2 linked regions of the Homo sapiens genome follow. The protein of the gene in region 1 purifies or fractionates together with the protein of each later gene. This does not show direct contact. Each region holds a gene or a part of one and is shown in the gene's direction. Other genes may lie near its edges.

Evidence for each region.
Region 2: the proteins of OSTF1 (region 1) and MYO1E purify together in Homo sapiens (co-immunoprecipitation; 4 studies listed by BioGRID and IntAct, with this or other methods). This does not show direct contact.

Annotation. Positions count from the first base shown.
Region 1 is NC_000009.12:75,126,038-75,134,226, forward strand, and holds part of OSTF1 (osteoclast-stimulating factor 1), read left to right. Parts: intron 1-439; exon of another isoform or gene 440-465; coding exon of another isoform or gene 466-468; intron 469-1,531; coding exon 1,532-1,582; intron 1,583-4,540; coding exon 4,541-4,604; intron 4,605-5,732; coding exon 5,733-5,786; intron 5,787-7,256; coding exon 7,257-7,364; intron 7,365-8,189.
Region 2 is NC_000015.10:59,368,989-59,377,674, reverse strand, and holds the start of MYO1E (unconventional myosin-Ie), read left to right. Parts: upstream 1-4,803; 5' UTR 4,804-5,174; coding exon 5,175-5,177; intron 5,178-8,686. UniProt on the Homo sapiens protein: Actin-based motor molecule with ATPase activity. Unconventional myosins serve in intracellular movements. Their highly divergent tails bind to membranous compartments, which are then moved relative to actin filaments.

The DNA of each region.
Region 1 (8,189 bases):
TAGCTGGGATTATAAGTGTGCACCACCACACCTGGCACATTTTTTGTGTGTGTTTTTAGTAGAGATGGGGTTTCACCATGTTGGCCAGGCTGGTCTCGAACGCCTGTCCTCAAGTGATCTGCCCGCCTCAGCCTCCCAAAGTGCAGGAATTGCAGGCATGAGCTACCACGCCTGGCTGGATGAAGTAATTTGTTTCACTAGCATAATTTTGATTTATATGGAATAGTAATTATAATCAGAAATATCAAAGCCTTTCTTTTAAAAGTATTTTTCCCACCTGAAATATGAAAGCAACACATGCTCATGACAGAATTTGGAAATTTTTGTGTCTATTTAATGCATAGTTGTGTTCTTATCACATGTGAAATTTGTGTCCTACATTTTTCATCCACCATGATGATGTAAACATTTCCTAACACCTGAAATTTGCTCTCGGTAGGCATCACCCTACTTACTTACAAAGTCATGGTAAGTGTTATCTACTGATGGTCAAAAGATGTTTAAAATGTGTATCTTTATTCAGAAAGTGTTTTTTGGTTGTTTTTGTTTGTTTGTTTGTTTTGTTTTGTTTTTTGAGACGGAGTCTCGCTCTGTCACCCAGGCTGGAGTGCAGTGGCGTGATCTCAGCTCACCGCAACCTCTGCCTCCCGGGTTCAAGAAATTCTCTGCCTCAGCCTCCCGAGTAGCTATGATTACAGGCATCCCCCACCATGCCCAGCTAATTTTTGTATTTTTAGTAGAGATGGGGTTTCACCATCTTGGCCAGGCTGGTCTTGAACTGCTGGCCTTGTGAACCACCTGCCTTGGTCTCCCAAAGTGCTGGGATTACAGGCATGAGCCACCGCACCTGGCCTCAGAAAGTTTTTAGAACATTTGGTTGGTACAGGCCAGAGCACATATGGTCTGTGTAATTAGCCAACTCCTTAGAGCTGCTTGGGGTTTCTGGACTGGCTGAGTTACTGCTTCATATCTTTTAGCTCTTTAGCCTTATTAATGGTTGAATTACATATTAACTTTTCTCATACAGAAAATGTTCATTCTCCCTGAACATGAAGAGCTAGGATAATGATTTTCTTAAAATGAGCAGATAGCAGATGTTGATCTTAAAGTGTTCAAGGATTGAGGCCTTGTTTAAGAGAAAATCAAGCTTCTGGCTGTTTTTCATGACTCTAATTCTAGACATTTATATTTTTATGAAAAAATGTATACCACCTTTTAGAATTTCTACAAGGAAGAAGTTTTATTAATACTCTATTTTGATATACAAATGTCTTGCTTTGGTTGTAGAAGAATGCAAGATGTGTGTGGAGAATCTTTATATATGTAATTCTTTGAAGTTCATCATGGGAAAAAAATCTAGCCGTCTATTCATGTGTTAATTTTTCAGTAGTGTTTTATTATATGGCTTATGTGCTGATTTAAGTGTATAAAACCACATTGCTTATTAGAATATGATAGAATTTTGAATCTATATAATCATATTCTAATTCATGAAAAATCACATGGAGTCAAACTTTTTTTTTTCTTCTAGCCAGATGAATTATACTTTGAGGAAGGTGATATTATCTACATTACTGACATGGTAAGTCCAGATAACATCTTGTAATACCACATATAAAGACTGTTTTATGTAGCTATAACATTGTAAGTTATTTAAATATATATGTACATAGAAATACATATGTACAAGTCTGTTCATTTTAGCACAATTGATAGTAGCATAAGATTGAAAATAGCCCTTATTTCCATCAATAGGGAAAGAGTTGAATAAGCTTTGGTCTAGCCACAAACAGAATATTATGCAGCTGTAGAAAGAAATGGGGAATATCTCTATATGCTATTATGAAGTAATTTAAGTGAAAAAAAAAGCAAAGTGAGAAAATGTAGATAATATATCCTCAGTTTTCTAGGAAAGGGTGAGAGTGTATGTGTACACACACATACATGCAGACACTTGTTTTTCTCAATTTCAGATAAAAAGTTGAAAGATGAGTTGCAAAGTAAAATTTAGTTTTATTCTATGAAGAGTAAAGATCCTTTCTCTAGGTGGAAGGAGAGAAATAGGGTATAATGAACATAGATGGAAGATAGACTTTTTAGAAAATTATACCTTGTTTTGTGGATTTGACTTTGAACTGATGTAAACCTTGACATGGTTAAAAATTGAAGTAAAAAGCAATCCCTAAAAATTAAAAGCAGAATGAATCAAATGAACTTAATTGTACCCTGGTAATTGGCCTAACCACACAGAGAGGAAATATTCCAAGTTTAAAACTCAGCAATTTGACTGAACATCCATAGTAGAATATGGATATGTATGAAAGACATATATATATATATATATATATATATATATATATATATATATATTTTGTCCATATATATATATATTTTGTCCATATATATATATATTTTGTCCATATATATATATATTTTGTCCATATATATATATATATATTTTGTCCATATATATATATATATATTTTGTCCATATATATATATATATATTTTGTCCATATATATATATATATATATATTTTGTCCATATATATATATATATATATATATATTTTGTCCATATATATATATGGACAAAAAGAAATGGCCAAAAAAGGGTAAATTGTTTTAAATCATGCCCTTGTTAGGGAAATGTAGGTATTGCTAATTCTGAGATTGTTGCATGTGTATTGTGGTTTAGAGCAAATGAGTAATTAGGTCGGTGATGTTGCTAACGGATTTTCAGCATAGCAAAAAGGATACACAGATGTAAGATTAATGACAGTTTAAGAAAAACTCTGTATTCCTTCATCTGAATTGCAAGGATCACATTGTATTTTATCTAAAATAAAACAAAAATATTCCCTGCTGTGTTCTTTGAAAGGGCCTAGGAAAAATGACCAACCCAATAATAATATGTTATTTTCCATTGAAATGTACAGGCTTCTTTGAGAAATGGCTGGTACCAAGTCAGGGGCAGCAGAGGTACAAGATAAACCCAGAACATCCTCTTATTAGAAAACATGGAAGCTCCTAAAGACAGTAGGGTCACACTGAAAGGACTTGGGAACGAACTTGAAGAGACTCCCACTGGCCAAAGATAGGACAATTTGAGCATCAATTAGGGCAACAACTTCCAAGAATTGAAACCCATTAAATACATTTAAATTTATGAGTTTCTAATGTTACTTCTGAGGAAATCTCATTGGTCAGCATGAGAGAATGCTAGGAAATCAGGTTTTTATTCTGACAACTGTTAAGGGAAAGAATCACCATTTATTCTGTGTTTTCTTTATGAATTTCTTACCTGGGCAATCTGAGAGCTGATGAGGAAGTTTTTGTTTAAAGAGGTATTCAGGTTATTTCAATGAAGAAGGAATGATAGAATTAGAATGTCACCATCTTGCAGCCTCTAGGAAATAGTGGATCTAGACAATGATCATCAAGGGCTACTAACATTACAAAAAGAAGCCGACTAGATAGTTTGCATTTCCTAATGGAAGAAATCAATACTGCCTAGGAAATAGCCTTGCCAAAAAAAATTGGAGCTGAATCTAATTAAACCTCTAGAACTGATGACCAATTTATAGGCAATACAGGGAACAGAGGAACATGCTTAATGATAACACAGGGATACAACAGGCAAAATCCATAGAGGTTGACACTACAGAACAAACCAACTGGATTCTTCAACAAATACATTGTAAGAGATAAAAAAGAATGGAGAGACAACCTATAGATTAAAAGATACTTAAAGACAAATCAATCATATTGTATAGCCCTTATTTGAGTCCCAAATTATGGGGCAGTTGGGAAATTTGAGTATCGACCTAGATATTTGATGATATTAAGGAATTATTGTTGGAAAAAACTTTTAAGCTGTGATAATGGCATTATAATTGCCTTTCAAAAAGTATGTGTCTTTCAGAGATACGTACTGAAATATTTACAAATGAAATAATATGATGTCTAGAATTTATTTTAAAATAATCCAGGAGGGGAGGGACGTCATGGGGGCATATATGAAACAATATTGGTCATTAATAAATGATTTGTGCAGTTGGGAAATGGGTATATATATGGTCATTACATTGTTCTTTCTACTTTTTTGTAAGTTTAAATTTTTCTATAATAACAAGTTACCCCCAAAATGAAGATAATATAAAGAGATCTTTAGAACTTCCTCCCCCATAAAAAAAATTATCTCAAAGCTAAGAGAAATGAAACTGTGGACAAAAAATCATATAGCTAGTCTAAACTAGCGTAATTTGTTTTCTTCTGTTTCATGTCATCTCTTATTTGTTTGGTTGTTGAGACTCTGTCATGAAACGTATTCCATTTGTTGCAGGCAGATGCGTGTTTATTTGTAACTGAGTGGTAAGGGAGACGGACACCCACAGCTAGGGCGTGAGGAAGCTTGATAGTGTGGGTAGGGTTGATGGACATTTTGTAGAACAGGTACTCCCTAGGAGCTAGATAATTTGAAAAGTGAATGAATGCAGTCTGGATTTCATACCACTTAATTTAACTCTTCTTTTACCAGAGCGATACCAATTGGTGGAAAGGCACCTCCAAAGGCAGGACTGGACTAATTCCAAGCAACTATGGTAAGTGTTGCTGAGTGGTTTTACTTTAGCTTCGTTCACTTGGAATTTTTTGGTTCTTGATGCTTTTCTGCTTGCTACTGTGGCTGAGAAAGCAATGGAGTCATTGTCAGTCTAGGACATTTTCTATTCCATGAGCCTTCTGTTAATAAACTGGCCATGAACACCAGATGTGCTTGAGCCTGACTCTGTGGCCTAAGAGAATGCATTTTAGCATTCTTAACCCAAGGTTTCCAAGGAAACACTTATGGTTTTACTTTCTTCAACCCTTAAAACAATTTTTTTTAATGCTGATAAACTCAATCTTGCAGATAGTTTCTTAGACTAGCCGTTTCTTTTGTGATGGAGTAACCCGGCCTTGTTCATTCATGTTTGGGGCAGTGATGTTCATTAAATGCTTATCATGGCAGTTTGGAGACTTTGAGAGATGAGAGACACGGCTCCCGCCATGAAGCTGCTTCAAGCTGGAAGTGGGACAAACAGATAAAACACTTGTTTAGTTGTCAGCAGAATCAAGTCAAAAGAGCACAGAATTGATAAACAAGGCTCCTGAGTTTTAATCCTCTTTCTTCCATTTCCTAATAACACTTCCTACTGATTCTAGGACAGCAGCGAACATGCCTTCTTTAAGAGGCAGGTAGCTATGCTGATTGTTCTTTCTGAATACAGGAAGCAAAATACTCCCCTCATCCGATCCTACATAAATACACACAAGAGAACCAAAATTATTTTCAGGTATCTTTAAAGCAGAGTGATCTACAAAATGTAAAAATGAACATCAAATGCTTCCTTTTGCATTTTTGTGACTTTGTTTATTAAATACTTGAGTAATATCAAGTGTGCATTTAACTCAGGTATGCGGGTTTGTTTGTTTTTGTTTATACTTCCAGTTAATTACTATGTTATTGCCTTATTGCTTGGCTTGGTTTCCCTAAACACATAATTCAGCTTCATTTAATGCAAGAACTATCCATTTGATTTTCTGTTACTTTTTATCCACATTAAGTAAAGGAAACTGTGTTGAATGCCCTGGTACTCCTGAAGCTGGGGGACTGTGGTGAATGAGTGGCTTCAGTAAATCATTTGTGTGGCAATTCCACATTGGGTTAACACTTTTTATTTTCAATCTAGTGGCTGAGCAGGCAGAATCCATTGACAATCCATTGCATGAAGCAGCAAAAAGAGGTAGGTGTGATTCTTTTTGACTGAGGTATGCAGTACAGTAAAAGGCACGGATTTCAATTAGCTTTGACAAGTGCATACACCCACGTAACCAACACCCAGATCAAGATCTAGAACATTTCTGCCATCCTAGAAAGTTCCCTTTGCACCTTCTCAGTTAAATCCCTGCCTTACAGTCTGTCCCAACATCTACTACCCTAGAGAAGTGTGATTTTAGTTTTAAAATGTCAGTCAAGAAACACTGTTGTGGGGAGATGCAAGTCGAAAGACATGGTCTGTGACTTCCAAAGCACAACATCTGGCAGGGGAGAGAGAGATGTAACAGATCATTAAAATATGGTATGATAAGTACAGCAATTGAAATGTGTTTGACAGGCCGTAGAGGCCCAGGTGAGTAACTGGAGGGCAAGAGAATGGAAGGGTCTGGTGGGTACAGCATTTAGGAGAGCGTTGGTGTGGTGAGCATTTGGCCAGGGAGGGCATGACTAACAGGGATGAACCTGGGGAAGATCCTTGACCAAACAACGATCAGCCTTGTCTTGGGCTTTATTCTGTAGATCAGTAGTCCTCAGCTAGGGGTGATTCCTCTTTCACAAACCCCGAGGGTATTTGGCAATATCTGGAGACATGTTGACTGTCATGACTGGAGGGATGTTACTGGCATCTTTTGGGGAGAGGCAGGCGTTGTTGCCACACATCCTACAGCACACAGGAGCACCCCCACAATAAATCCAACCCCAAATGCCAATGGGGCTGCTGCTGAGAAACCCTGCTGTAGATAATGGGGAGTTTTTGTAAAGCCTCAATGAGCTCCATTTCATTCCATTTTTAGATTTTTTTGGAAATCTGAATGTACACAAGGAAATTATTGGTTAGGATTGTGAAAAAGTAAAAGGACTAAACTGACATTTAAAAAATTCTTTGTGAATTAGATACTTGGGACATTAGCCTGAGGATTTTAAATTAATAGTTATAGTTTAGCATATAAGAGCAGCAGCTTTGAGTAGGTTATTTAGCCTTTCTTATAGGAACTGAAGATGCATTTTAAATATGAATATGAATAGTATCTGCTTGTTCTTAGGTTTGATTGTTTTTTCCTCAATTTCCAGAATTTCACAAAGAAAAAAATAATATATACACATACACACACATACACACACACACACACACACACACACACACACACACACACCCCTATATATTTTTTAACAGAATAGAAATACCTTAAGTATACCCATTTGGGCAACTATTCCCATTAACTTATCATTAGAAACATTGATGTTAATACTTTCCATTAATAAGCTGGAAGTCAAAATGTACCATAATAAATGCATTAATGGGGAGGTCTTAATTTAATACTTGCTGATTAATCCATTGCAAATGGAAATTTATGCAGAATGACATTGATTTAAAAGCAAAATAAAAAGTGAAAGCTTTTTTTCTTGTGTTCTTGTAAATGTAAAATTCTTTCAGGCAACTTGAGCTGGTTGAGAGAGTGTTTGGACAACAGAGTGGGTGTTAATGGCTTAGACAAAGCTGGAAGCACTGCCTTATACTGGGCTTGCCACGGGGGCCACAAAGGTATTACATTTTGTTTGTTATATGTTTCTATGCTGCTGAAAATGTGTTTCACCTACGGGAGCCAGATTTACAAAAAATGAGAAAGGAAAAGCATTGGCTATTCTTTTTGAATCCTTTAGAATACCGGCCAAAACCCTTGTTCCTGGAAGCTCTGTAGAACAGTGGGTAGAATGTGGTCAGTCAGCCTCACTGCATGGGTCCCTCTCGCTTGAAAGACTGGACACTTCCTTTCCTCTCTCAGGCTTAGAAAGGTTACTGGAAAACAGCAGTAATATAAAAACAAAACCACTGTCTAATCTTACAGAAGGAAAGATCAGAATTTGCTCCTCTAGCTTAGCTTTTCACAAGGTCTTCTTTTATGATTTGCATTTTAAGTTTAATGCAAACTATTAGATTCAAGAGAAAGCCAACATTTGCCAAAGTTAGTGATTCCATTGATACTTTTTCTGTTGTAATCAATAATAATGACAAATTGAATTTTTAGATGTATTTCTTCCTGGACAAAAATTTATCACCCACCGCTTTTCTACCTCTCTCTATAACAAAAGAAATAAACTCAACAACAATAAGAAATGAAGATCTCAACAAATTAAATAGCAGTGCCAAAGGAAAATTTGTAACTGTCTACTAAAAAGAAGCCTATCTTATTTCAGCTAATAAACATGTTAGTTATATGAATGAAAAGTATTATAGTGAATGTAAAAATATTCCTCTAAGTGTCATATGAAAATGCAAAAGCCAAAACTATTAGAAAAAGTATATTTTCCTAAATAATTCCACTTTTTAGATTCTTAAGTTTTTCTATTTTATAAATTTTACAAAATG
Region 2 (8,686 bases), on another chromosome or scaffold:
GGGACTACAGGTGCAGGACACCATGCCTGGCTAACTTTTGTATTTTTAGTAGAGACGGGGTTTCACCATATTGGTCAGGCTGGTCTCAAACTCCTGACCTCGGGTGATCCACCTGCCTTGGCCTCCCAAAGTCCTGGGATTACAGGTGTGAGCCACTGTGCCCAGCCAAATTTTCTTTTCTTTTCTTTTTTTTTTTTTTTGAGACGGAATCTCACTCTTTTTGCCCAGGCTGGCCCGCACTGGCCTGATCTCGGCTCACTGCAATCTCCGCCTCCGGGGTTCAAGAGATTCTCCTGCCTCAGCCTATCGAGTAGCTGGGATTACAGGTGCCTGCCACCACAGCCAGCTAATTTTTTTTTGTATTTTTAGTAGAGACAGGGTTTCACCATGTTTGGCCAGGCTGCTCTCCAACTCCTGACTTCAGGTGATCTACCTGCCTCAGCCTCCCAAAGTGGTGGGATTACAGGCGTGAGCCACCGCACCAGCCCCACATTAATTAACTTTAGTGTTGTGAGTGCATTCTGAATGATTTTTTATGGTATTGACAGGGAAACTAGTTTTATTGCTCGATATTATTTTCTTGCTGCTTTCCAAAATGCATAAACAATGATTTAGTTCACTGATAGATTTATACAGAAAATTTTACTTTGTATTCATTTTGATTTTTTTATTTGTTCCTTTTCATTCAGCCCCAGAAAAAATGCAATTAATCATGCCAAGGTATTTACAAAGCCTTATCTGACTAGCTCCATCATGTGTCTAGAATGAGTTTTACAATTTTAAAAGTTGCTTCCACTTCACTGCTACTATGGTCTTGAATAAGAATAAATATCTGGCTGGGCTCAGTGGCTGAAGTCTATAATCCCAGCACTTTAGGGGGCTGAGGTAGGCAGATCATTTGAGATCAGGACTTTGAGAGACCAGCCTGGTCAACATGGCGAAAACTCATCTCTACTAAAAATACAAAAATTAACCAGGTGTGGTGGTGGGCGCCTGTATTCCTAGCTACTCTGGAGGCTGAGGCAGGAGAATCACTTGAACTCAGGAGGCAAGAGGTTGCAGTGAGCCGAGATAGAGCCACTGCACTCCAGTGTAGGTGACAGAGCATCTCAAAAAAAGAAAGAAGGCCGGGCACGGTGGCTCACACCTGTAATCCCAGCACTTTGGGAGGCCGAGGTGGGTGGATCACGAGGTCAGCAGTTCAAGACAAGCCTGGCCAAGATGGTGAAACCCCATCTCTACTAAAAATACAAAAATTAGCTGGGTGTGGTGGCGGGTGCCTGTCATTCCAGCTACTTGGGAGGCTGAAGCAGAGAATAGCTTGAACCCGGAAGGCAGAGGTTGCAGTGAGCCGAGATTGCGCCACCGCACTCCAGCGTGGGTGACAGAGCAAGACTCCGTCTCAAAAAAAAAAAAAAAAGAAAGAATAAATATTTGGCAATATATTACTGAATCCTCTGAAAAACAGATGGAAATCAGAATTGGGAAAATGTTCCTTTTTTTTTTTGAGACAGAGTCTCGCTCTGTCTCCTAGGCTGGAGTGCAGTGGTGTGATCTTGGCTCATTGCAAGCTCCGCCTCCTGGGTTCACGCCATTCTCCTGCCTCAGCCTCCCGAGTAGCTGGGACTACAGTCACCAGCCACCATGCCTGGCTAATTTTTTGTATTTTTTTTTTTTTTTTAGTAGAGACGGGGTTTCACCATGTTACCCAGGATGGTCTTGATCTCCTGACCTCGTGATGCACCCGCCTCGGCCTCCCAAAGTGCTGGGATTACAGGCGTGAGCCACCACGCCCGGCAAAAACTGCTTTTATATATATATATGACTTTATAATAATCTCATGCTCATATATATTATAAAATGATATATAATCATATATAAATCATATGTACATATAAAATCTCATATATATTATAAAAAATGAACACAAGCATACATCTTCATCAAAGTCCTGCCTACTACAGTTAGATGTACCTCTTGAAACTTGGAAGAGATTATAGATTATTAGGGCAATAAAAGTAAACGCTAAAACATTTTTTTAAAAAATCAGAAATGATGATATAATGGACTAATAGTCTCAAGGTAGTTTTTGATAAATCCAAGACTGATCAATTGTCAGTCGACTGTCAATGGCTTATTAAGAGATTTTCAGTGTTTCATTGTATACCTGGGCTAATCTTGGGAAACAAACTATGCCTTTGTCTGTACATCTCAAAGCCCATGTCAATCTGACTACTAATGAGGGTTGACCATGGATGGGATGGTGTCTTAGGTAGTGTTTCTTGTGTTACTGGTAAGCTGACACTTCCGTCTTGGTAACCTCTGTTCATACACTCCTAAAATTCCTGATAGGTTTTGTTGTTGTTGTTGTTGTTGTTGTTGTTTTGAGACAGGGCTTCACTCTGTTGCCCAGGCTGGAGTGCAGTGGCACGATCAAAGCTCACTACAGCCTCGAATTCCCGGCCTCACATGATCTTCCTGCCTCAGCCTCCCAAGTAGCTGGGACTACAGGCATGCACTATAATGCCCAGCTAATTTTTATTATTATAATTTGTTGATAGAGACAGAGTCTTGCTATGATGCCCAGGCTGGTCTTGAATGCCTGGCTTCAGGCAATCCTACCATCTTGGCCTCCTAAAGCGCTAGCACTGTAGGCATGAGCCACTGAGCTTGGCTGACCTAATAATATTCTGAAGCTGATATTTCCCTATGAGATATGGAGTCAGACTTATCTGAGACTTTATCATGTCTGTGTGTACCTAGGCAATGCCTAGTACAGATGGCATGCTGTTTTCTTTCCAATTCATACTACATAACTATGTCAGATGAATTTCCTGCCCTAAACTATAGCTCCAAATATGGCAGTTCCTTGCACAAAACTACTGTCGCATTTCATTATGCTTGCTTCTTTCCTGTATTTATTCTTTCTAAAAATTTATCGTTTGTTTTCCCCATCCTAAAATTGTAAGCTCAGTGAGGGCAGGGACCAGTTGTAGCTCCAGTGTTTAGCTGTGCTGTCTTATAACACACATTCGATTATATTGTTGCCAAACTATGTAAATGATTACTACAAGAATTTGGACAATATGATTTTCTTTCAACTTTTAAAAGTGAGATATAATGAACGTACCATAAGACTCACCCATTTAAAAAGCATAACACAGTGGTTTTTAGTATATTCATAAACTTGTACAATCATCACCACTAATTCCAGAATATTTTCATCACTTCAATAGGAAAATGCATACCTGTTAGCAATTACTTCCATCTCCCCTCTCCCCCAGCCCCTAGCAAACCACTAACCTACTTTTTATCTCTATAGATTTCCCTATCCTCAACTTTCATTTAAATGGAATTATATAATATGTGGTCTTTTGCTCCTGGCTTAACACGATATTTTCGAGATTCATCCATGTTGTAACATTTTGTTTACCCTTTTAGACAAGATAAAGTTTAATACCCTTTCTAACTCTATGCTCAGATAGTCAAGTGAAGAGCTACAACCAAATTTCTTTTTCCTTTCTTCCTTTCTTCTCTCTCTCTCTCTTTCTTTCTTTCCTTCTTTTTTTTTTTGACAGAATCTTGCTCTGTCGCCCAGGCTGGAGTAGAGTGGAACGATCCCGGCTCCCTGCGACCTCCGCCTCCCCTGTTTAAACGATTCTCGTGCCTCAGCCTCCCGAGTAGCTGAGATTACAGGCATGTATAACCATGCCGGGCTAATTTTTGTATTTTTAGTAGAGAAGGGGTTTCACCGTGTTGGTGGCCAGGCTGGTCTCAAACTCCTGACCTCACGTGATCCACCAACCTCAGCCTCCCAAAGTGCTGGGATTGTAGGCGTGAGCCACAGCGCCCTGCCTCAACCAAATTTCAGAAAGTATCATAATATCATTATGCTTCATAGTTTCTCTATGCCCTGAAGTTTACCAATTTTATCTTCTACAGATTCCAGGAAGGCAGCCTGTTAAGACTCACCAAATTTACTTCCTCAGCCTCCAGAACAATAAAATCAAACTCCCTACCTTGATTTTAAGATTCTGCTTCCCCCCACCCCGCCCCACCCCAATCTTCTCCTTGGATATTCGACAGTCTGGAATAATGCATTTTTACAGTTCTGATTGTTTTCAGCAGATGTGTTGGCTGAGGTTGGATGGGGTTTCTTCCCACCTATCTCTCCTCTCTCCTTCCCTCTGCCCACTGCACGTGCAACAACTTTTCTGCCATCAAAACGTGCAAAAAAGAAACAAGAAAGAAAGGAAAGAGAAAGAAAAGAAAAACAGAAAAAAGAAAAGAAAAAGCAGCCGGAAGTCTTCCTTTGTTTTCCAAGGAAATTCAGGTAAAAGGAGGGGTGGGGAAATGATATTTTTGACTTTGCTCACAATCCAGACGTAGGAAAGAAAAAGGATTTCCTTTGGGCTGCTGCCACGACTCTGATGTTTTATGCTGATAAAATATTTCCTTCTTAAAAAAAAGTTCTGGGAAAATCATGCCCCTTCAACTTGGAAGCGAAACCCACCCTAACTTTCGTCTTAAAACGCAGCGAAGTGAAAGGTTTGCTCCTCTTTCACGAGGGTTTTGTTCCTTACAGTTCGGGTCTTGCTACCAGGAGCGAGCTGGGTCCGCAGCGTTCTTCGGTGGCTGGCGCGGGAGGAGGACTACAGGATCCAGAGATCTTTGGAAACTCCAGCAGCTCCAAGCTTGTTGGCTACTACGGTTTCCCTGAGGAGTGACGCTACGAAAACAAACCCTGATTGGTCAGGCCTGAGCTGAGTTCTCCATTTATGGACAGATTGCCCGGCCCGAGCCGAGACTCAGCCAGAGGAGTACGGATTAAGTGGCCGAAGAAAGAGGAGTGAGGCAGGGGAGCGAGGCGGACGCTCCGAGCGCATCGGACTCACCTGGGCCGGCGGCGACCGGCGAGTACGAGTGGACTCTTGCCCTCCGCAGCATGCGCCCCGCCTGCTAAGTCGCCGCCGTCTCGCCCTCACCTAGCACCGCCAATCCCGCCTGGATGGAGTCCCCTCTGGGTTCCCATTGGCTCCTGTGAGTGCTTGGGTGTCGGGAGCCTGTTTTTGGCGAGGGGAACCAACTTTTGAAGTTCGCCCAGAAGACTGCGTTCCAGCCCCAGTTCCCCGGCAGCGGGACCCGGCGAAGACGCGACCGCGGCGCGAGTCACCATGGTGAGTTGGCCGCGCCGCGTCCTAGGACGCCGGACCCGGGGACGGGGCAGGAAACCCCGGCGTGGTGCACCCACCTTGGGCGCGCTGCCGGGGCCAGGGGTGGAGAAGGTGGACGCGGGAGCCGGCACGTCGCGAGCTCTGATTTCCTGCCGCTTTCCGTAAACCCGGGCCGGGGGAGAGCGAGCGAGGGGCCAAGGAAAACTTTATTCCAAGTCGGTTTCTGCGTCGCGAAACTTTCTGTGGCCGGGTTGCTATGGCTGCCAGCTGTCGGAAGCCAGGGTGTGGGCGCATCGGCTGCGAGGGGCACGGCGCGGGAGGGGGTCCCCTCCTCCTGCTGGGACGTGGGGGGCGCAGCCGGCAGGGGAGGTGCTCGGAGACTCGCGCCGCAGCCGCTGGCGGCGTCCCCTGCCCTCCCCGCGGCCGTGCCCGCCCCGCCCCGGGCACCCTCGCGCCGACTCCCTCTCCTCCCCGCCGCCGCTCCGCTGCCCGGCAGCGCCCGCAGCTGTCCCGCCTGGCAGCGGCACGCGGGCGGGGGCGGTCCCTGGCCCGCCTTGGCGAGGGGCGGCGCGGGCCGCACAAAGGCAGGCGGGGGCGCCAGGTAGGGCGAGCACCTGGCGGCCGGCGGGCTGTCAAGAGCCAGGGAGACTCGGGCGCGGGCGGCAACCACGCCGCCCCGGACCTGTGCCGGGCGCCGGCCCCGAGGGTCTCCGCGCCCCGGACGCCAAGTAAACACCTCCTGAAGAGGACCCCACCCCTTCCCAAGCGCGAGGGGATCGGGGCTTTTCGGGGATCCAGGGGACGCTTCGCACGGGAAGACGCCCTCGCGAGTTTCGAGTTTGTTGCTGTTTTCCCTTTGGCACTTTGGGAATGTGTGGAAGGGGCCGCCTCTTTGACTTGTGACTTTTCTGCTATTCCAACTCCCCAGTCCAGCTACACTCCCCTCCCTCCCTGTATAACCTTAGCCACCTCCCTTGGGCTTTGGCGTGGTGTACTTTTCTTTGCGGGGCACGAAAGCAAGGACTCTATTTTGAAGAGATCGGCAGTTCATCAAAAAAAAAAAAATCTATTACAAGGCTTCATAGTTTCCACACTTGCTTCTTTTCAAGTAGTCCTGCTTAGGTGGATTATCTCGTCCTCTTCTGGTTTGCTGTTGTTTTCTAATGGCTGTGGAAGAGAAGCCAAGTCAAAATGATAACCAGCACAACACTAATTAAAAAATCGATATCCCGGTGAGCAGCCTGAGGGAAGTGCAGCAGAGGCCCATCGAAACCTGCACACAAAGCTCAGAAGCCCCCTTGCCCCGTGCTGTTTATTCCAAAGAATGATTACAAACAAACATCAACGAGAAACCTTTCAAGGCATCCTCGGCCAAAGCCTTTTCTTTTTACATAGTCCAAAATTAAGTCACTTTTGCCCCATCTAAGAGAACACTTTGTCTATACATTTCCTCTTCTAGTTTTAAGGTTTAAGAAGTCAGTCTACTCTACGTTACTTTTGGACCCCTTCCCTCACCCCAGCAGAGAACCATTCCCATTGGGCATGTGTTTGGGTGAAGCTACCTCACTGGGCACCTGGTCCCTTGAAGCAGTGTGATAGTCCTGGTACTTGAGAATTGCTGTAATCATTTTCCGTGGGTCAATATTTCTTAAAAAAATCAATGTGTTTATGTCAAGAACTTAAAGAATCTTACTGAATTTAAGTACTTGAGTGGTACCTTGAGGAAATTAACTTCCCCTCAGTTAAACTCATTTTTCATGCTGAATGGACTGAAATATACTCTAGGTTGCCTTTTCCGAAACCTGTGATACCATGCTTAATTCAGCCCCATTGCAGATGAAGTAGAGGGTTGGTCAAATGCATGCGAAGAAGGCATGCTGTAGGGAAGAGGTGGTTCTATCTGAGGACAGTGTGTGACTTCCCTATTGATGGGCTCCCTGCCATCAGCACAGATGGGCATGTTGTGTGCCCCCAGGCGACTATCTGTGCATCAGATATGGTTGCTGAAGTCACAATTCACTGATGGAAAAGTTGAAACAGCTGGCTGTCCTGAAACAGGAGATGTGCCATTGATAGATCTACTGGATCCAGAGTGATTTGGCCAAAGTTAATCATTTCTTTCCTGACTTGAAAAATTGTTCATTATGTATGTGAAGTTGCCTTAGAATAGAGCATCATCTTAAATAATCAGAAACCCAAGTTACAATATTTAATGTTTATGTCAGACTCTGTCAAGCCAAATGATACTTCATTTTGTGTTCCACATCTGCCCAGGCCTGCCCAAGTTGTATCCCTTCAGCTGCTTAGAACAGGAAGGGAAAGGACATTACCTTCTTTGGGTGTGGCTGAAGATTAGCATGGAGGCTAAAATTCATCAGAAGGCCCTTGGCGGCCAGGCGCAGTGGCTCACGCCTGTAATCCCAGCACTTTGGGAGGCTGAGGCAGGAGGAATACTTGAGCCCAGGAGTTCAAGACCATCCTGGGTAACATAGTGAGACCCTGTTTCAGTTAAAAAATATTAAGAAGAAGAAGAAGAAAAAGAAGGCCCTTGGCTGGGCTATAGGGAGAACACCTATACCGTGGACTTCTTCTGTGTGAGTGTGTGTGTGTGCGTGTGTCTTTTAGGAAGTCTGGTAGCATAGTAGGAGGGCTCTCCATCTGTACCTGAGGCCCTACTAAGACTCATTCAGTTGTGACTCATAAGGAAAATAGCCATTTTCATTTTCTGACTCATGAACACAGTGTACAGCTTGTAGTTCACCTTCTATCTTCCTCCTGAAAACTCACTTTGGGACACTTTTCTATCTTGAGAAAACTAGGAACACTACCAGGCAATAGTTACTTGTGTCTTTTTCCTAAGGAGACTTGAAGAAGTTAAAAAAAACCCTGCACATCTTTATAATTTAGTGGAGGTTGTTTAGCAGAGTACAAAAAAATCTCTGTTGACTTTAACCGTAATACCCATCTAAGGCTTCCTTCGTAGAATCTGGGCTTATCATCATCTGCAAAGGAAGTTCTGCTTTTGTGGCCATGACCAGTTTGGACTCTCTGATAGACTGAAACCCATGGCTGTAGGTCCGCTATGTGCTTTGGATCCAGAAATTGTGATTGATTTTTATGCAAGGTTTCTGTGCATTAAATATACAGAAATATTTGAGCAAATCTGAATTGACCATCACCTCAAAACATGTTCAAGAGCTGTTCCCTTTTCCTTACTTGCATATACTTGTGAGGAAATTATAGATATGACACATAAGAATACCCAGGAATAGATTTACAACCTAGAAATCTGATGGATAGCTGATGATAAGGTAGGTAAGTTCCTTTAGGTGATGGCATGGCATGTATTTAGAAAGTCTGGAATACATTTCAAATGTTTCCTGGGAAGGTAACCTACTTGATTTCCACAGATTAGTTTATCAGATTGCTAGTAGTCTCCTAGTCAAAACAACACAATACAACAAAACAAAACCAGAAAGGAATGGGATCAAGCACAAAAAAAGTTTTGATGG